Linked DNA regions of Homo sapiens. The protein of the gene in region 2 purifies or fractionates together with the protein of the main gene of each other region. This does not show direct contact. Each region holds a gene or a part of one and is shown on either strand. Other genes may lie near its edges.

The links.
Region 1: the proteins of LMAN2 (region 2) and PLXNB2 purify together in Homo sapiens (affinity purification with mass spectrometry; 3 studies listed by BioGRID and IntAct, with this or other methods). This does not show direct contact.
Region 3: the proteins of LMAN2 (region 2) and HEATR3 purify together in Homo sapiens (affinity purification with mass spectrometry; 3 studies listed by BioGRID and IntAct, with this or other methods). This does not show direct contact.

What each region holds. Positions count from the first base shown.
Region 1 is NC_000022.11:50,283,569-50,290,675, forward strand, and holds part of PLXNB2 (plexin-B2 isoform 3 precursor), read right to left. Parts: intron 7,030-7,107; coding exon of another isoform or gene 7,017-7,029; coding exon 5,949-7,016; intron 5,575-5,948; coding exon 5,392-5,574; intron 5,304-5,391; coding exon 5,175-5,303; intron 4,470-5,174; coding exon 4,369-4,469; intron 4,226-4,368; coding exon 4,099-4,225; intron 3,697-4,098; coding exon 3,543-3,696; intron 2,720-3,542; coding exon 2,605-2,719; intron 2,531-2,604; coding exon 2,422-2,530; intron 2,334-2,421; coding exon 2,232-2,333; intron 1,346-2,231; coding exon of another isoform or gene 1,277-1,345; intron 1,098-1,276; coding exon 1,005-1,097; intron 646-1,004; coding exon 564-645; intron 423-563; coding exon 265-422; intron 183-264; coding exon 34-182; intron 1-33.
Region 2 is NC_000005.10:177,341,567-177,348,673, reverse strand, and holds part of LMAN2 (vesicular integral-membrane protein VIP36 precursor), read left to right. Parts: intron 1-7,107. UniProt on the Homo sapiens protein: Plays a role as an intracellular lectin in the early secretory pathway. Interacts with N-acetyl-D-galactosamine and high-mannose type glycans and may also bind to O-linked glycans.
Region 3 is NC_000016.10:50,096,863-50,103,969, reverse strand, and holds part of HEATR3 (HEAT repeat-containing protein 3), read right to left. Parts: intron 3,741-7,107; coding exon 3,597-3,740; intron 1,712-3,596; coding exon 1,535-1,711; intron 1-1,534. UniProt on the Homo sapiens protein: Plays a role in ribosome biogenesis and in nuclear import of the 60S ribosomal protein L5/large ribosomal subunit protein uL18 (RPL5). Required for proper erythrocyte maturation.

The DNA.
Region 1 (7,107 bases), on a different chromosome or scaffold from region 2:
CTGACAGGGCCCAGACCAGGGCCGTCCACTCACCGGGTGGACACGGAGTAACGTTCCGGCTGAAAGGAGCAGTTCCGGCCGGCCACAGAGATCCTCTGGATGTCCCCTGCTTGGACGCCCAAATTGGACCCCAGGATGGTGATGCGGATGCCCCCACCCAGGGGGCCCGTCTCAGGCTGGATCTGAAACCACAGAGCCGGGTGAGCAGGGAGGGGCTCATGCCAGGGACGAGGGAAGGTGTAGGCCAGGCTTCGAGGGGCTCACCCTGGTGATGACGGGCGGCGGGCACTCGGAGGTGGTGTTGCACAGGGCCTCATACACGCACCTGCTCTGGCCCCCGCACCACGCACACCTGTAGTCGGGGTTAGCGGCCCGGCACAGGCTGCAGTCGCTGCGGCCAAAGGAGCAGTTGTAGAGGGTCACTGCGGGGAGAGCTGCCGTCAGTGGTCACCCCGTGCCTGCCCGCCCCCGACCTGCTCCCCACTGCGCCCACCTGTCCCCCCACCCACCGCCTTGTGCCCACCCGTCCCCTGCCCGCCCCCCACTGCGCCCGTGGCCCCCACCATGGAGCTTGCTGTCGATATTCTTGCCGTAAGACTTGACGTAGAGGTGCAGGGGCAGCGTCTCGTTGGCATCGTGGGACAGCTGGGGGACACGCAGGGGCACACTGCACTTCCTGCCCCCACAGAGGGGCGTGGGGCGGGGGTCACAAGGGCAGCCTCCCTGTGGCCACCGGGTCCCTTCCCAGCCAAGGGCAGCAGGGGAGGCCTTCAGGTGTCGGAAGTTCGGGAACCCCATGGACGCTGCTCTGTGCCACTCTGTCCCCAGGGAGGCAGAGGGCAGAGGGGGCTTCCCCAGCAGCACAGGGCATGGCGAGCCCCTGGCTGGGCTCTGGTCCCTGGGGTCTCCCTGCTGCCCCTCCCCTCACAGTCCTGAAGGTGACCCCCCACCCCACCCGGGGCCCTGGGGTCCAGCAGCCGAGCCGGCCTGCCCTGGAGCCGTACCTTTGGGGTCCGAAAGGCGAAGGTCCCAGATTCCTGCATGGTCACCGGCTCCATGAACTTGAGCAAGTCACTGCCCACGTGCAGGGAGGAACCCTGCAGACCATGCCGTCAGGACCCTGGACAGGCGGCTGTGGCACCCTGGCCCTCCTCCCAGAACCCCTGCAGCCCCTCCTCTGTGCCTACAGTGTGGGAGCCCTCTCCTCACCCCACACATGCCCGCCCCTCAGATTACCATGCCAGCTGACCCCTCGGCCACTCCTGAGCCCAAACACCTGTGTCTGCAGAAGCCTCTGAACGTCCTCTGTGGGTTTCCCACGGCCACCTCCACCACTCATCCACACCTGAGAACATCGCCCGGCCCACCTGACATCGTGGCCCCCACAGCTCCCTCCTCAGGAGGTGGCACTGGCCCCTCAATCTCCACACGCCTGCCTCCTCCACTGCCTCTCTTCAGGCCCATCCAAAGGCCCCCGAGTGCTGCCTCCTGGCCTCTGTCCCCGATAAATCCTGTGCCCTCTACCTCATGTGGGGGCCCCGAGTCGGGGGGCACGGGTGGAGCTCAGGCTTCCCACACACCCATCAGCACTGGCCGGCACCCCTCCCTCCGTACCTTAGCCTGCCTGTCACCAACCGGCACCCCCTCCCTCCGCACCTGAGCCTGCCTGTCACCGGCCGGCACCCCTCCCTCCGCACCTGAGCCTGCCTGTCACCAACCGGCACCCCCTCCCTCCGCACCTGAGCCTGCCTGTCACCGGCCGGCACCCCTCCCTCCGCACCTGAGCCTGCCTGTCACCGGCCGGCACCCCTCCCTCCGCACCTGAGCCTGCCTGTCACCGGCCGGCACCCCCTCCCTCCGCACCTGAGCCTGCCTGTCACCAACCGGCACCCCCTCCCTCCGTACCTGAGCCTGCCTGTCACCGGCCGGCACCCCTCCCTCCGCACCTGAGCCTGCCTGTCACCGGCCGGCACCCCTCCCTCCGCACCTGAGCCTGCCTGTCACAGCCGGCACCCCTCCCTCCGCACCTGAGCCTGCCTGTCACCGGCCGGCACCCCTCCCTCCGCACCTGAGCCTGCCTGTCACAGCCGGCACCCCTCCCTCCGCACCTGAGCCTGCCTGTCACCGGCCGGCACCCCTCCCTCCGTACCTGAGCCTGCCTGTCACCGGCCGGCACCCCTCCCTCCGCACCTGAGCCTGCCTGTCACCAGCCGGCACCCCTCCCTCCGCACCTTCACGGTGTCCAGGTTCTTGCCCTGGAAGTTCACATCTGTCTCGTGGTTCATGGGGATCACCAGGGGGCTGGGTCCCAGGAACTGGGGACAGCTGTCCTCCTGGGAGAGTAAGGCTGGTCAGGTGCTGCCTGGGCACAGCGGAGCAGCCATGCCCTGAACAGTCCCCTGAGGCCCCGAGGCCCCTCACCATGTGGGCACGGACGATGCCGTCCTCAGGGTTGGGCGAAGCCTCCCGGCACTCGTGGTAGCGCAGGTCCCACTGGCAGGTCCAGCGGTTGCTCACGCAGGAGATGCACCTGCATCCAGAGGGGATCGTGAGCAGGGCTGGGGTGGACGGGCAGGGTGGGGTCGATGGGCACAAGACACTCACGGCAGGTTCTCCTCCAGGCTCATGGCCTGGCGGCAGTCGTAGAAGGGGTACTGGTAGGACGTGAGGAAGATGTTGCCTCGTCTAAGGAGGAGCTGGATGGTCACGGCCACGTGGTCTGCAGACAGCAGAGGGGGAGGTGTCAAGGTGGCGGCCGCAGGGCCGAGGGCCAGGCTGGGCCTCCCCTGGGGCTGACTCCTGGGGCCAAGGTGGAGACCCCTGGTCTTCAGGGGGCCCTGCCAGGACGCCCCGCATTCATGTTGGGCGGGGCCTGCCACCTGCTATCAGATCTCGGGTGGGGCTGCCAGGACGCCCGTTCACGCTGGGCTGGACCTGCCACCTGCTATCAGATCTTGGTTCGGGTGTCGGGCGCAGCACCGGGCTTGCCTTTCTCCCCCGGGTCCAGGTTGCTTTCATACCCTCTGTTCCCGCAGGCACTGAGGGCAGCGGCTCCTTGGAGTCTGAGTGGGACCTGCCAGGTCCCTGCCCACGTCACTGCGTGGCCCCACTGCCCCCAAAACTCAGGGGACATGGGCGCGACGCCTGCCCTGGCCCACATGCGAGGCCCTGCAGCCTCTGGGAACGGCCCTGCTCTCTGAAGCTGGACATGGCAGGAAGGGGTGAGGGGCGTCTGCCGAGACGACGGGGCCTGGCGCCTGGCACCCACATGCCGCTCCGGACGTGATGAGGGAGCAGGCTGAAGACAAGTCACCTTTGCTACAGGCCTGGGGGGCGTGGCTGCGGACAGCCCAAGAAGCCAGAACCTCCCCAACAGGCACAGCAACCCCACCACAGGCTTCATTCAGGCTGGGCCCCCGGAGCAGCCGCGGAGTGTGCCTGTGCAGAGCCTGCACCCAGGGGCCAGCAGAGGCGAGAGCCCGTGTGCACAGGGCCCCGTGCGACCGAGAAGGGCCACCCGGGGGCTCGGGAAGGGGCCTCACCCTGGCCTGGCGGTGTGACGGGGATGCTGCTTGGGGAGTTGCAGATGACGGCCTCGCCCTCCACGCGGGCGGGGTGTGGCGGCGACTCCCCAAAAAGGCACAGCAACTCGTCCTCCTCGCTCAGGGCAGGGAGGGGGCTGACGGTCAGCTGCACCTGAGGGAGGGGCCGTGCCGCTCACACTGGGAACCCCGAGTCCTGTCAGCCCACCTGCCGGTGACCCGACCTCCCTGCGTGTGTGGGCGCACGTCCCAGTGGAGCCTCCAGAACCCGACTCCACGTCTTCCAATACAGGCCTCTCTGTGGTCACCCCAGCAACTCCTGGGACAGGGCCTGAGTCCACCCTGGATATGGACAAGCCCCACCCCTGCCCGCCCAGGTCATAGGGGTCCAGGGGACCAATGGAGGGCGGGCTCCATCCCTAAGGCTCGGTGCCCAGAGCCCAGGCGGGGGAGATGTGGAGCCCTCCCCTGCCTGTCCCAACAGCTCCCAGCATGGGGGAGCCCCCACCTGGCCCGGCCTGGGGCCCAGGACCCCCACCCCAGACCCACCACGCACCTCCCCCTGGGCCCGCCGGCTCATGTTCTGTGGCTGGGCGCTGGTGACGGCCACGCAGGACTTGCTTCGGCTCCACAGCCAGTGGCTGGCCTCCTCGGCCCGCGGACACTCGGCCTTCCGGGTGCATCTGCAGGCGCAGGGGGCGGCCTCAGCCCAGGGTGGAGTCTTGTTCTCCCGGGACAGGACAGTGCGATGTGCCCCCCGACCCAGGCCACGACCTTCCGGGATCCCAGAGGCAGGCCGTGTCCCCGAGCCACCCCAGGCACTCACCGTCCCTCGACGACGCACCAGCCGCAGTAGGGGTCCTGGGAGTCGCGGCACTGGGTGCAGGTCGGGTAGCTCAGGCACTCCTGCACCGGCAGCCGGAACACCTAGGGCAGCGGGGCCGTGAGTGGGACCACAGCAGAGGCCGCACGGGCCTTCCGCAGACCCCAGATGTCCCCAGACCGCCAGCTTGACCCAGCTCTGTCCCGGGGCCTCGGGAGCCTCAGACACCTCAGGCTTGATATTAAACAGTTCTGGCTCTGGGTGGCCATGCCTGGCCCAGGATCCCGATGGGAGCCCAGGGAAGCCTGGAGGTCTTGGCTATGGTGTCTCCCGGGGCAGCTCCTGTCCTCTACACTGGCTCCCTCCGAGGGGTGCTCCTAGGGCTGGCCTGAGGGTCTCTGGCACTAACCCCCCACAAGCTTGGGGCCCAGGCCCATGTTCTCCACTGACTGAGCTCACATGGGCTGTGCAGGGACCCCGTCTTCCCATCCACCCTCAGCAACACGCCTCAGACACCAACCCAGGTCCCTTCCATCAGGACAGGGCAGAGGCGGGGCCAGAGGGAGAGACATGGTTGAGACCACAAAGGACAAACAGAAGGAGCGGCAGAGACGGGGCAGTGCTAGAGAGACACAGGATGGAGGCACTGCCCGGGACCCACCCAGCCACCCCTCATCCAGACCAAGGAGAAGGGCCCAGCTCTGCAGCACCCCATCCTCCTCTGGCCCCCAGGCCTGTCCTAAGGGCCTGGGATGCAATGACCGGGCACACTTGGCCTAGAGTGCTCTCCGGGGCTGCGTCTGGCTCACCTTGTCCTGGGTCATGGCGTACAGGCTGCCCAGGTCTCCAGACAGTACCAGGTCGCGCTTGACTCTCTTGTTTATCTCCACAAGGATAGAGTCGTACTCTGAGGAGGTGCCATCTGGGGTGAGGTACACCTGTGTGCGCGAGGGCAGGCCGGTGAGGGTACGGGCCTTGTGCACAGACGGGCCCTCCAGAGCCTCCCCGCCCCAGCCTGGGCCAAACCTTGAGGATCCGGCCATCAGAGGTGCCCAGAAAAGCAACAGTGTGGTTGTTCTCGGCGGCGACCGTCACGGCCGTGAGGTTCAGGCCTCCACGCTGCAGCACGGCTGTGCCTCTGAGCCCGTCGCGGCTGCCCAGCGGGTAGGGCAGGTGCTCCGAGCCACATGGGAAGCTCTTGCTGGAGCCCTGCGGACCACAGCGTGTCAATGGCAGGCAGACCCCCTGTCCTGAAGGGCCCTCTCCACTCGCGCTCCAAGACTCGGGACAGGCCCTTCCCTTCCCTCCGGCACACGTCCTACACACGTCCCCGAGAACAGAACCCACATGGCAGGGAGCCCCACCGTGCTCACTGTTGTGTTCCCCAGTGCCCGACACAGGCCTGGGACTGGCGCCAGCGTGAATGGCATTGAGAGATGCGGCACCCACCCACGCAAGCGCCCAGGCTGGCGAGAGCCACGGCCACACTGCTCACGTGCACCCTCCCCAGCAGGCTGGGACACGCAAACCCACGAACGGACGCCTGCAGTCCGGGCCCTGCGAGAACACACTGAGGCCCATACCGGCGCGTGGCCGCCGCACTGGATATCGCCGTGGAAGGGCTTGTAGAAGATGTCACGGGCCTCCCGGGTGCCTGTGTAACAGGCGTTGCGGTTGGCCTCCATCTTGGCGTGCACCTTGTCCAGCGGGAACAGGCAGAGGCCCGCACCGGGCCCCCCACTGCTCCGGCTGTCTCTGCTGAAGACAGCATATAGCACCCTGCCAGAGCCAGGCGCAGCCACGGAGGCGGCCAGGCAGGTGCCAAAGGCAGCGGCGTGGATGTCGGGGTCCCGGCACTGCAGGTCCATCTCCAGGTAGGAGTAGTAGTTGGGGTCTTCTCTGCACATGCGTGCCAGCAGCGTGCGGTTCCGGGCCGGGTGCTTGTCCTGCTGGTTGAAGACAAAGAAGACGTAGGGGCCGTCCTCGAAGGCCGCCACGAACTGCTGTGTGTTGGTGGACAGGTAGCCGGCCTTGTAGGTGGCGTGGTCCGTGTAGGCTTCAAAGGCCTCCCTGCTGTCAGTCCGGTCCAACAGCCGAGTGCTCACGATGATGCCGTTGTCGTGTGGCCCATTGCCTTTGCCCACAAACAGCACGCGGTCACCACCAGGACCCGTGGAGCTCACCAGCCCCACTGTGGCCACGCCCTCATCATTGCTGGCCACGAAAGACTTCTCCCCGCTGCCGTCCTCGTAGAACAGGCGGAGGGAGATGTTGCTCAGGGCGCGCAGAGCGCAGATGCCCTTGAAGAGGCTGCCGCACTCCACCAGGCGCTTCCTGGGAGGGTCGAGCAGCAGCAGCTGGTTGACATTGTCAGTCATCTCAGCCTCATGGCACTGGCTGGCCTCGATGGGCGGCGTGCACTTCTTGTTGTCCAGGGCCGGGCCCGTGGCCACCTGCTGCTCCAGCTGCAGCTTCGCATCCAGCTGGTAGAGGGCATTCACCGCCCCCAGGTACACCACGCCTGAGGCCTCATCCACAGCCAGGTGGTTCAGCTCTTTCTCGCTGCGGAAGAAGTCCAGCTTGCGGGGCCTCAGGCTGGCACCTGCGCCCAGCAGGCCCAGCAGGGTCAGGGCCCAGAGCTGCAGTGCCATTGCCCCCCGCACCCTGTGGGAAGAGAGAAGGGTCAGGGGAGCCCCGACCCAGAGGACCCCCGATCAAATCCCTCTCCAGTCCCTGCCCCAA
Region 2 (7,107 bases):
CTCTATCACCCAGGCTGGAATGCAGTGGTGCGATCTCAGCTCACTGCAACCTCCACCTCACGAGTTCAAGCGATTCTTCTGCCTCAGCCTCCCCAGTAGCTGGGATTACAGGCGCGCACTGCCATGTCCAGCTAATTTTTTGTATTTTTAGTAGAGATGAGGTTTTGCCATGTTTGCGAGGCTGGTCTCCGACTCCTGGCCTCAAGTGATCTGCCCACCTCGGCCTCCCAAAGTGCTAGGATTACAGGTGTGAGCCACTGTGCCTGGCCAGTATGTCAGTTTTTTAATTGAACTTGTACTTTCATTTCCACACAGAATATTATCCTAATGCAATATATTTAATGCTTGAAAATGTTATTCATTAGCCTACCATATTCTTCTGCAAGTAAAATTAATATAATAATTTAAACTTTTCAATTTTGTTGAGACTGAAACTTTTAATATTTTGTTTGAGATTATTATAATTATCTGTACACACTTGATAAAAGTAAATGCATTACACAGTTTTTGAGTAATTATACAAAAGTAAACATTTTTTGAAACATGAGATCTCAGTAGGATGTCACCCCCCACCCCCATCTGGATGGATAATACTGTCAGAATAAGACAAGTTCAGTACCACTTCTACTTTTTGTTTTTATGTACATGAATTCTGAGAAACTGTGTTCTCTTAAATAGTAGTTGGAGATGGGGTTATTTTTAAAATTTTAAATTTCTATTATAGATGGGATCTTACTATGTTGCCCAGTCTTATCTTGAACTCTTGGACTCAAGCAATCTTCCCACCTCAGCCTCTGAGTATCTGGGACACAGGTGCTCACCACCACTGTGCCTGGCACAGCGGGAGTTTTGGTAGAGCAGCATCACTGAATATTTTGATCTTCTTTTGGTTTATAAACCCAACGTCATGCAGTGATCTTTTATCAAAATTTTTGATGATGTTTCGGCTGACTGTTGATTACATCTGCATTCCGTTTCGTTGCAAGCAGAGATGTGGAAACTGCTGAACTGTAAAATAGCCTCTTATTGCCAGGTGATTCTGATGTAGTTGGCCTGGTGTAGGACCAAGGCATTAAGCTTTCTGAGCTCCCCAGGTGGGTTTGCTGTGGGTTAAGAACTGTGGTCATATCGTGTTTGTCCCCAAAAGCAGCTTCTGAATCATTTCCAGCCTGTGCCTTGCCTGCTTAAGATCCTCCAGAGGCCTTCTATTGTCTGTATCATAGTATGTCTCTACTAATCTGCAGTTTTAATCTGGGGTCATGAAGACTTTCCAAGGCCTGCGTAGTCCTGGAGGAGTCTGTTTCCAGGTCCTCCACTGTCTCATGTGCTCATTCCTGAAACCAGCCTCCCCGTGAACATGCTGGGAATGGGTGTGTGGGTTTTCCTTTCCCACCTCCCTCACTCAGTTGCCCTTCTGCTCTGAGGTCAGCCTCCCAACAGCCTGGTCTTTCTTCAGGGTGTTGTCCCCAGGTGCAGAAAACTCCTGGGCACCAAAGAGACCATTTGAAATCTGGTTTCTGGGCTGACTTTTGTACATGTGAGATATTTTTTTTTAAAGTTTTCAAATATATGAGGGCTATTTTAGTTATCTTTTAAAATTGTTTATTATTGTTAGATAGCTGATGGAATTGCATCATGGTCAGATTTTTTGGACGCGTTCTGTTTGTGCTTATGAATGTGGATTCTCTACTTGTTGACTACAGTGTGCCACGTAGGTTCTTTAGGTCAAACTTGCTTTCTGAGCTTCCCAGGTGGGTCTGCTGTGCAGCCAGGGTTAAGATTGAGTTCGGATCTTCTCTAGCTTTCCTCATGTTTTTGTCTGCTTGCTTTTATAAGTTACTAAGAGAGCTTTGTTAAAAATTTCTGTGTATGGCTGGGCAAGGTGACACGTGCCTGTAAGTGTCAGCTACTGGGGAGGCTGAGGCAGGAGGATTGCTTGAGTCAAGGAGTTCAAAACCAGCCCAGGCAGCATAGTAAGACCCCATCTCAAAAAAAAAAAAAGTGTTAAAAAAATTTCTGTATATGGATTTGTCTGCATCTTTGTAGTTCTGTCAGTTTCTGTTTTATATGTTTTGAGGCCAAATTAGGTACATACAAAAACTTAGATTTATTATATCTGTAGGTAAATGGAATCTTTTATCATTAAGAAGAACCCCTTTTTACATTTTGTTATGGGTATAGCTATAGAAGCTTGCTTTTTTTAAAAAAAAAACAACAACCGGTAATCAATTTATTAAAATAGTCAACTTTAAATATCTGCAATGGTGACTTCCACCTCAACTCCTGGCTCAATACTGATGGAAGTAATCTGCTTAATCTCAGAAGGACTGTGGAGGTCAGTGAGCCACTTGTGGATTCTCATCTGGAAACGATCCCGTGTGTTAGAACCTTCACAAGGAGTTTTTCTTGTGGTGATTCTCGAAGCCTTGATAGGCGTTCCAGCTGGTCTTTTCACTTTGAGATTCTTTTCCTTTGCTCCTCTGATCAAGTCAGCACACACCTTTTCTGGGGATTCTATGTTGCAGCTCATTAAAGTGATTCAGATTCAGTGAATTGTCACCTCTGGCTCCGCAGGTTTTCTTCAGGTATCTTTAAAGCCGTGGGTGGGCCGGGTGCGGTGGCTCACGCCTGTAATCCCAGCACTTTGGGAGGCCGAGGCAGGCAGATCACCTGAGGTCGGGAGTTCGAGACCATCCTGGCCAACACGGTGAAACCCCGTCTCTATTAAAAATACAAAAATTAGCTGGGTGTGGTGGCGGGCGCTTGTAGTCCCAGTTACTCTGGAGGCTGAGGCAGGAGAATTGCTTGAACCTGGGAGGCAGAAGTAGCAGAGAGCTGAGATTATGCCACTGCACTCCAGCCTGGGCGACAGAGCGAGACTGTCTCAAAAAATAAATAAATAAATAAATAAATAAATAAATAAATAAATAAATAAATGCATGCCATGGCTGCTGCGAGCCTTCCTGACCAACTTGTTCCTCAGCCAGAGCAAACAGTGGTGAGGCAGGAGCAGGAGCGGGCAGACCACAGCTCTGCAGCGCCTGTGGCCCTGTCTTCCTGAAGGAGCAGAAGCTTGCTTTTGGTTAGTGTTTGCATGATACATTTTTCCTGTCCTTTTACTTTTTCCCATTTCTTTATGTTTTAGCGTTTTCTCTTATAAATGGTATATTACTAGGCTTCAGGGGTGTTGTTTTTATGTTGTAAATGCATATAACATAAAATTTACCACTTTAACCCTTTTTACCTTTAAATCCATTAATTTATGAAACTATTTTCTTCAGTAGGCTACACATTGACATTGAAAGAGTGGCTTTTTTTTTTTTTTTTTTTTTTTAGACAGGGTCTTAATCTGTCACCTAGGCTGGAATGCAATGGTGTAATCACGGCTCACTGCAGCCTCGGTCTCCTGGGTGTGATCCTCCCACCTCAGCCTCCTGAGTAGCTGGGACTACAGGCGCACACCACCATGCCTGGCTAATTTTTTTTTTTTTTTTTTGGTAGAAGTAGGGTTTCACCATGTTGACTAGGCTGGTCGTGAACTCTGGGCTCAAGCAGTCCACCCACCTTGCCCTCCCAGAGTGCTGGGATTACAGGCATGAGCCACTGCGCCCAGCCTGACAATGGCATTTAAAAGATGTCATGGCTATGTAAAAAAATGTTTCCACTGTTGTACGTACACATCTGCACATGCAAGAAAATTTCTCAAATCTTTCTTCCTTTTCTTTTCTCTTCTCTTCTTTCTCTTCTTTTCTTTTCTTTTCTTTTTTTGAGACAGGGTCTCACTCTGTTGCCCAGGCTGGAGTGCAGTGGCGCGATCTCGGCTCACCACAACCTCTGCCTCCCGGGTTCAAGTGATTTTCCTGCCTCAGCCTCCCTAGTAGCTGGGACTACAGGCGCCCGCCACCGCACCCGGCTAATTTTTGTATTTTTAGTAGGACGAGGTTTCACCATGTTGGCCAGGCTTGGTCTTGAGCTCCTGACCTCAGGTGATCTGCCTGCCTCGGCCTCCCAAAGTGCTGGGATTACAGGTGTGAGCCACTGCATCTGGTCAAATTTCTCAAATATTTCTATTGTGATAAAATGTATGTAACACAGGCTGGGCGCGGTGGCTCACGCCTATAATCCCAGCACTTTGGGAGACCGAGGTAGGTGGATCACGAGGTCAGGAGATCAAGACCATCCTGGCCAACATGGTGAAACCCCGTCTCTACTAAAAATACAACTAATTAGCTGGTCATGGTGGCGTGTTCCTGTAATCCCAGCTACTCAGGAGGCTGAGGCAGGAGAATTGAACCAGGGAGGCAGAGGTTGCAGTGAGCTGAGATCACGCCACTGCACTCCACCCTGGCGACAGAGCAAGACTCTGTCTCAAAAAAAAAAAAAAAAAAAAAAGTAACAAAGCGTACCATTTTAACCAGTTTTTAAAATTAAAAAAAAATTTTTTTTTTTTTAGAGATGGGGGGGGTCTCACTTTGTCACGGAGGCTGGAGTGCAGTGGTGCAATCCTAGCTCATTGCAGCCTCGAACTCCTGGAGTCCAGTGATCCTCCTGCTTAGTGTCCTGAGTAGCTGGGATTACAAGGCATGTGCTATTGTGCCTGGCTAATTTTTTTTTTTTTAATTTTTTGTAGAGCTGGGGTCTCACTATGCTGCCCCGGGCTGGTCTCGAACTCCTGGCCTCAAGCAATCCTCCTGCCTTGGCCTCCCAAAGTGCTGGGATTACAGGCGTGAGCTACTGCGCCTGGCCCATTTTAACCATTTTTAAGTGTACAGGTCAGTGGCATTAAGTGCATTCACATTGCTGTGTAGCCATCACCACCGTCTGTCTCCAGAACTCTTTGCTCATCCCAACTGAAACTCTCTACCCATTTAACAATCACTCCCATCCCCACAGTCCCTGGTAACCACCATTCTACCTCATCTCTGTAAATTTGACTATTCTAGGCATCTCACATAAATGATAAATGGAGGCATACAATATTTGTCTTCTTTGACTTATTTTACTGAGCATATGTTGAACGTTCCTCCATACTGTAGTATATGTCAGTACTGCATTCCTTTTTGTTGCTGAGTAATATTCGTGTGTGTGTGTGTGTGTGTGTGTGTGTGTCTAGACCACATTCCGTGTATTCATCTATTCGTAATGGACACTTGGGTTGTTTCCATCTGTTGCCATTGTGAATAGTGCTGCAGTGAACATTGGTATACAAGTATCTGTTTGAATCCTACTTTCAGTTCTTTTGGGTATATACCCAGGAAGTAGAATCTCTGGATCATACGGTCATTCTATTTTTACTTTTTTGAGGACTACCAAACGGTTTTCTGTAGCAACTGCACCATTTTATATTCCCACCAGCAATGCACAAGGATTCCAATTTCTCCACATCCTTGCCAACATTTGTTATTATTTATTTATTTATTGAGATGAAGTCTCGCCCTGTCGCCAGGCTGGAGTGCAGTGGCGCGATCTCGGCTCGCTGGAACCTCTGCCTCCCGGGTTCAAGTGATTTTCCTGCCTCAGCCTCCCGAATAGCTGGGACTACAGGTGCCTGCCACCATGCCCAGTTAATTTTTTTAATATTTTTAGTAGAGACAGGGTTTCACCGTGTTAGCCAGGACGGTCTCCATCTCTTGACCTCGTGATCTGCCCGCCTTGGCCTCCCAAAGTGCTGGGACTACAGGCATGAGCCACCGCGCCCGGCCTAGGGTTTTTTAATATATTCTAGATATTAATCCCTTATCAGATATGTGATTTGCAAATATTTTCTCCTATTCTGTGGGTTGTCTTTTCACCCTCTTGATCATGCTCTTTGATGTACAAAAATTTTAGTTTTAGTGAAGTACAATTTATCTTTTTTTTTTTTTTGTCTGTGCTTTTGGTGCTATATCCAAGAAATCTTTACTAAATCCAGTGTCATGAACATTTTTTCCCTAGATTTTCTTCTAAGAGTTTTAAAGGGTTTTTTTGTTGGTTTGTTTATTGTTTTTTGAGGCAGGGTCTCATTTTATTGCCTAGGCCGGAGTGCAGTGGCGTGAACACGGCTCACTGCAGCCTTGACCTCTCCAGCTCAAGTGATCCTCCTGCCTCAGCCCCACAAGTAGCTGGGACTACAGGCATGCGCAGTCAGGCCCAGCTAATTTTTGTATTTTTTTGTAGAGACAGGTTTTCACCGTGTTGCCTGGGCTAGTCTTGAACTTCTGCGCTCTGGTGATCCACCTGCCTCAGCCTCCCAAAGTGTTTCAGATTACAGGTGTGAGCCACTGCAACCGGCCAGGTTTGAGCTCTTAAGTTTAGATCTCTGATCTTTATATACTTATTATTATTTTTTTTTATAGAGATGGAGTCTTGCTGTGTTGCCCAGGCTGGTCTTGAACTCCTTGGCTCAAGCAAACCTCCCATGATGGCCTCCCAAGGTGCTGGGACTACAGGTATGAGCTACTGCACCTGGCCTCTTTACTTTTCAAATTAAACTTTTTATTTTGACATAATTATAAATTCACATGCCGTTGCAGGAAATAATACAGAGATCCTAGGTGCCCTTGGGTTTTGTTTTTTTATTTAGCATTTAGTCCATTTACATTTAATGAAATATGATACATTTGGGTTTAATCTGCTATCTTACTCTATATATTCAAATTGCCTATTCTCTGTTCATTTTTCTCTCTAGTCTTCTTTTAGGTTAATTTTTATTATCCTATTTTTCCTCTTCTATTAGCTTGAAAGTTATATGCTCTTTTCTCAGTTTTAAGTGGTCACCCTAGAATTTAAAGCAGGCATTCATGTTGTACCAAAGACTAATGATAATGTGTACTTTACCTTCTTCCTGGACAGTGCAAGGATCCTAACACACTTTAACTCCATTTATTGTTGTCATTTGTTTTAATTATTTCTGTTTTAAATCACACAACCCATTGTTTTGTGCAGTCAGATATTTAGATTTTCACCCTTATAGTCACTGTATTTGTTGTTCTTCGTTCCTTCTGGAATCTGACTTTACATCTGGATGGGGATCATTTTCTTTCTCCCTGAAGAATGAAAGTGTGAGTCTGCTAATGAATTCTTTTGGTTTTTGTTTGTTTGTCTCAAAATATCTTTATTTTACCTTCA
Region 3 (7,107 bases), on a different chromosome or scaffold from region 2:
GTAGCCTCCAACTCCTGCACTCACACGATCCTCCTGCTCAGCTTCCTGAGTAGCTGGGATGACAGGCATGAGCCACCACTTAATGGCTAACTTAAAAAAATTTTTTTGTAGAGACAAGTTCTTGCTATGTTTCCCAGGCTGGTCTTGAAATCCTGGACTCGAGTGATCCTCCCACCTGGGGCTCCCAAAGTGCTGGGATTACAGGTGTGAGCCACTGCGCCTGGCCTGTGGTTTTTTATATCAATTGTATGGAATCTGAGTTTGATCTCACCTCTAGTCTAGAGCAGTGGCTCTCAGGTTTTAGTGTGCAACGGTATCATCTGGAAGGCTTGTTGAAAAATAGACTGGTGGGCCCATCCACAGAGTCTATGACTCAGTAGGTCAGGAGTTGGGGCCGAGGACCTGCATTTTGAATAAGTTATCAGGCAAGGGCTGATGCTGCTGATACAAGGAGGGCACTTTTGAGAAACACTGCTCAAGAGAAGTTCTTGATTGTACATAAATGCATTTTGCAGCTAAATATACACTGAATAGCCTTTAACACAAATTGTGGCTTCATTTAGCAAAAAAAAGAGTTTCACATAAATAACTACAGGCTAGCCTCTGGCTAGGAAGAAATCTCATTAGAGCTTTATACCTTTGATAAAAGAAAAACAAATGTTATTACCACAGCAATACATACTGAGTAGGAAAATCAATCAGAACAAAGACCTTTCAGAAGTCAGGGGTTATTTTCCCAGTTCACTGTTTAACCTTTTTTAAGCACCTGCTTCTGCAGAGTTTGATGACTCTAACTATTAATATATCTGCTTTCCTTGAAGCTGCAGGGAAATAGGGGATATTTTTTTCTTATCTTGCAAGCTCTTTATCCAGAAATTTAAAGGACTGTAACCTTTAAGAACAATATGGCTGGGCACAGTGGCTCACACCTGTAATCCCAGCACTTTGGGAGGCCAAGGTGGGCAGATCACCTGAGGTTGGGAGTTCGAGACCAGCCTGGATGACAAGGCGAATCCCCGTTTCTACTAAAAATACAAAAATTATTTGGGTGATGTGGTGGACACCTGTAATCCCAGCTACTTGGGAGGCTGAGGCACAAGAATCACTTGAACTGGGGAAGGGGAGGTCGCAGTGAGCCAAGATCGCACCACTGCACTCCAGCATGGGCGACAGAGTGAGATTCTGTCTCAAAAAAACAAAAAAAAGTAAAATTAAATAAATGCAAAATGTGTATGAAAGTGCTTTGCAAAATACAGAGTATAATACTGACATATATGAAGCATTGTCAAAATTACTAAACTTAAAAAAAGAAGAACTTGTCAGATACCATTTTAGCTTCAGTTTCAATGATTCAGTAGTCACACTGTTGAGCTATGACTCAGTCAACGAACATTTTACAAAGTACTGGGGATGCTGTGCTACATATGGGGATTCGTCATGCACATGCTTCTGAGTTGCACAGCGGTAACTACACACACCCTTGTCCCCACAGAATGTTCAGACTTATGTATTTATAAGTTAAATGGCTACAAACCTTCATTTTAAAGACCGGCTGGAATTCTTTCAGAGCAGATAATAATTTAATTTGAATCGAGGCTCTTTCGGCTTCTTTACCATCTGCAAAAACATCAAAGAGGGCATCCAAAGCTTCTCCTGCTACCACAAGGGAAGGATCTTTGGTGGTAACTTCAAGCAGAAAGCACCCAATGTTCTGGAAACAACAAAACACATTTAGTATGACTAACACCAGTCTCCAAAACAAGTACCAACTTTGAATGTGGCAATAACTCATGCATACTATTTTATATACAAATGCCAGGGAAAAATTAAAACTTCAAGAGATTAGACTTAAATACTTATAAACATACCAAGTATAAGCAAGATAAATTAAACATATTATAGTTTATATTCATAAATAAAGTGAATTAAAATCCATAAATGATGTATGATTTTGGAAATCACTAAATTTTCCCCTCTACCTCTCTCAAAAAGGATTTCTCCATGATGTCAAGATGCATAGAAATATTATCTGTAACAACAACGACAACAACAAAAAATCTGCTTTTAAAAGCATAAGAAAAACACTTTAGGCCAGTTGCAAGTGGCTCACACCTGTAAGTTCAGAACTTTGTGAGGCTAAGGCGGGAGGGTCGCTCGAGCCCAGGAGTTCAAGACCAGCCTCGGCAATGGAGCAAGACCTCATCTCTAAAAAACGTAAAATAGGACTGATCTGAATCGAATCTAGTCTGTAGATCTAACTGTCAGTTTGTAGGAAATACAAGGATAAAAAAACAAATTTACCACCACAAGGTAGCAATCAGACAAATCCAGAAGGTTTTGGACACTATATTGGACAACTGATCCAGGAGGTGAGAATAACCACGTGGTGCCGGGGAGGAACTGTTCAAGATTAAGAGAGAAAGAGAAGACCCCACAGGAAACATAACATGTGGACTTCAGCAGTGTAAACAAGCTCTCTGTAAACAGATAATTTTGAGGCAACTGTAAAATTATGAATATGGACCAGGAATTAGACACACTAAGAAATAACTGTTGCCGGGTGCAGTGGCTCATGCCTGTAATCCCAGCACTCTGGGATGCTGAAGTAGGTAGATCGCTTGAGCCCAGGAGTTCAAGACCAGCTTGGCCAACATGGCGAAACCCCATCTCTATTAAAAATACAAAAATTAGCCAGGTGTGGTAGTGGGCACCTGTAATCCCAGCTACTCGGGAGGCTGAGGCAGAAGAATTGCTTGAACCCAGAGGCGGAGGTTGCAGTGAGCCGAGATCACACTACTGCACTACTGTACTCCAGCCTGGGTGACTGAGACTCCATCTCAGAAAAAAAAAGAAAAAAAAAAAAGCTTTGCAAGTATCATTTTTCAAAAATAGATTCTTAAAAACATCAGTCATCATTGTAAAGTTCTTAGCAGGTTAAGAGGTACTTTATAATAATGAGTTTATTATCCACTAGTCTCACACTTCAGCAATTATTAGCACACCAAAGTGTAATGTTACTATGACTGTCCTTTTAATTACTAGTGACGCTGTACTCCTAACAGTGCAGTTTGTGAGCAACTGTGCTAAGTGGTAAGAGCAAATATGCTGAGGGAATTGCTAGTATATTGGCACTACCAGGGTTGCTGCTTAAAATTTATGGAGTGGTATTAGAATTAATTAACTGTGTTGTATTTTTCAGAATGCATGTTGCCTGGTGTGCAAGGAAAATGGTGTGGATTGTTCATTCATCAGCAGGAGAATGTAACATGCATACATTGGATGCAACAGCAAAGGCAGAAGGCATCTTTAAAAATTCTGAATTTGCCCTTTCACTAAAGACAGATTTATTTTTTTAAAAAAGTACCTCTGGAATAACGTTAAATTGTAAAATGTGGCTCAACTTTTCAAATACTTACCTAATTAATACACATAGTTAGATCAAGCCAAAGGGTATATTCTAATAATATGACTCAATAAAGCAACTTGATATGACTTCTTCTCTTCAAGTCCACACAAGTTTTAAGAAATCCTACACCAACAGTTCTTCTCCCATTTCTAATTATTTAACATGTTAGGTCAGAAGCAAATTGTTTTACCTTAAGAGTTTCAAGTGTACCATCTTCTTTGGCAAGGACGCTGCCAGTGATTCCTAAAATGCTAACGACATTCACTCTAACCCCGACATTACTACTATGAATGCCTGCTTTGCATAATGTCATCAGCTGATCAGGAGTCATGCACTGTTAAAAGAGAAGAGGACAGTATTTATAATGTTAAACTCAATTAATTCTATCAGCATGTGAAAACCGGACTGACAGGAATCTCCTCTATAGGCTACAGGATTTTAAGAGTGACATAAACTCCTGGCAGGTAAGTTACTATTAATATGTATTCCAGTTCTCCCAGACAGAGCTGGTAATTCTGAACTAAGGTGAACCCTGCTCATGTCGGCACTGTTATCTAATATCAAAGGGGCTCCATTTAATTTGATGAAGACTTTCATTCCAGATGTACACACACTAAAGAGAGTCCAATTCCTTTTTAATATTAATGGTAAGAAAAAGGCTTTGAAAGTATAAATAGGATTGTGTGGTTTTAAAAAAATTGGCTGAGTCTATACAAGGTAAGAACTTACTTTGAGATATCTGTATTATCATAATTAAAGACTGTAGAAACCATTACATTATATGGTGCTTCTACCATGTAGTGGATAATTTTCAGTTTAAGGCTGGGCGCGGTGGCTCACGCCTGCAATCTCAGCTACTCAGGAGGCTGAGGCACAAGAAACGCTTGAACCTGGGAGACAGAGGTTGCAGTGAGCTGAGATTGTGCCACTGAACTCTAGCCTGGGCAACAGAGTGAGACTATCTCCTATAAGCAGCAGCACAGTGTAGTGATGAAAGGCTTGGAATCTGGAGCCAGACACAAAGGCTTGGAATCTGGAGATTGAACCCTGGGTTCAAATCCTAGCTTCACTACTTATCACTCGTGTGAGCCCCTACACTAGACTAATGTATTTTTATTTTTTGTAGACATGAAGTCTCACAAAGTTGCCCAGGCTGTTCTTGAACTCTTGGGCTCAAGCAATCCTCCCGCCTCAGGCTCCCAAAGTGTTAGGATTATTAGTATGAGCCACTGCACCTGGCCCTGAACATGGGCTTTGAGTAATTTTCCTTAACCATCACACTGATCCCATAAGCTGCTGCTTACATACCAGGGGAAATCAATAAAAATACTTGATATTCCTATAGGCCCTAGAGTATAAGGTTTTCTGGTCCATCCAACAGCCACATGGCAGGCTATGCATCCCATTACCATTCCTACTTCTTAGAAACTGAGGGTCAAATTATGCTCTTCAAAAAAATTCTTAGCTTTGGAAAGCTGAGGCAAGAGGATCACTCGAGAGCAGGAGTTTAAGACCAGGCTGGGCAACATAGCAAGACCTCATCTCTATTAAAAAACTAAAAAATAAAAATAAAGTATAAAAAAATTTTAAAAGCATTAAGAAAAAAATTATATAAAGAAGCAAAAAGAAATAGTGTTATTGGCAATAACAAGAGCATTGTTATTTTGATACTATTAAGTACATTCCGTAGGATAAAGCAAATAATAGTTTTAATGTCACTACAATTTTAATGTTACTACAGCAAACAATTTTAATATCACTGTATAGCAAATAATTTTAATGTCTTTTAATGTCACTACTACAAAGTACATTCTGTAGGAGAAAGCAAATAATAAAATTTTTGAAAAATATTTTTCTTTCTTTTCTCTAATTTTAATTTTTAAATTATTTATTATTATTATTATTTTTGAAACGGAGTATCGCTCTGTCGCCCAGGCTGGATTACAGTGGCCCGATCTTGGCTCACTGCAAGCTCCGCCTCCTGGGTTCACACCATTCTTCTGCCTCAGTCTCCTGAGTAGCCAGAACTACAGGCACCCGCCACCACACCCGGCTAATTTTTTGTATTTTTTAATAGAGACGGGGTTTCACTGTGTTAGCCAGGATGGTCTTGATCTCCTGACCTTGTGATCCGCCCACCTCGGCCTCCAAAACTGCTGGGATTACAGGCGTGAGCCACCGTGCCCGACCTATTTATTATTATTTTTAAAGCCAGTCAAACTTAGCGTGGGGGGTTGTATACCAACTTCAGTGACACTAATGTTAATAAGTCCTGATAACCCACTACCATCAGACCAGCTGCAAATAAGAATTTTAATGTCACTAATGTATCTTTTTGGGTACAATGTACCTTTTTGGGTACAAATGTATCTTTTTGGGGGATACAAAAAGATAGAAATACAAAATCGAAAATTAAGTAAAAATATTGTACCATTTTTTATTTAAACTGGAAATTATCAGGATAAACTTACTATTTTTGTCTCCTAAAAAAATGCCTATTTCCTAGCTATTTCCACTAAAAAGACCTAGAAACAATGGCAACATGATAGCAATAAGCACTCCACAATTCACTTTCCCCACTAAAGAAATCAGAGCTTCTTGGAGAAGTAACTAATTCCAGGGTTTTTTTTTTTTTTTTTTGAGACGGAGTTTCACTCTTGTCACACTCTTGTCACCCAGGCTGGAGTGCAGTGCAATCTTGGCTCACTGCAACCTCCACCTCCTGGCTTCAAGCGATTCTCCTGCCTCAGCCTCCCAAGTAGCTGGGATTACAGGCGCGTGCCACCACACCCAGCTAATTTTTGAATTTTCAGTAGAGACGGAGTTTCGCCATGTGGGTCAGGCTGGTCTCAAACTCCTGACCTCAAGTGATCCGCCCACCTCAGCCTCCTAAAGTGTTGGGATTACAGGCATGAGCCACTGTGCCTGGCCAGATTCCAGGTTTTAAGCAAGAAAATTACAAATTGAACCTGGGACATCCTATGCCTGGAAGCAAAAGTGATCAAAAACCTAAAATTCTTGTAAAAGAGGCACAGGAGCCAATTTGAAGGGACTCCTACTATCCAAAGATGGGATGAATTTGGCAGCAAAAAGCATGACTATAATGGAATGAAATACAAATATATAAAAAACCCTGAGTTCAAAATGATACTAAAAAAAAAAAAATCACTGGTCACTTATAGAGATTGCTAGGATAGCTATTCTGAAAAAAAAAAAAATCATAGCTAATAAATGTAAAAAAAAAAAAAAGAAAAGACAAAATTAGGGTATCTCTATTCTGCAACCCACTAATGACATAATGGAGCCAGGCAACCACAATCACTGGTTATAAAACCATTATGTGAACCCACTAATTAATCTCAGCATCACTATTTTATAATATCATATGATTTGTGATATAAATATAGGAAATATATAAAGCACTATAAATTATTCTTGCCAAAAAATCTGGACCTGTCTAGATTATTTATTATAAATACAAAAAATAAATAAATAAATAATCTGGACCTGGATCTAATTAAGGCTCTAGACCTAGCTCCCGGCTCACAGGAAACATGGGGGACAGAGGAATGCTGAACGATGCCATCATGATGAGTTGGCCAAATCTGCCAGTGCAGAAAATGCTACGGAACAAAATGAGAGTTTCTTCAATGGGTAAGTGTATGGGGAAAGGAGGGGAGTGAGGGAAATGCTATAGACTA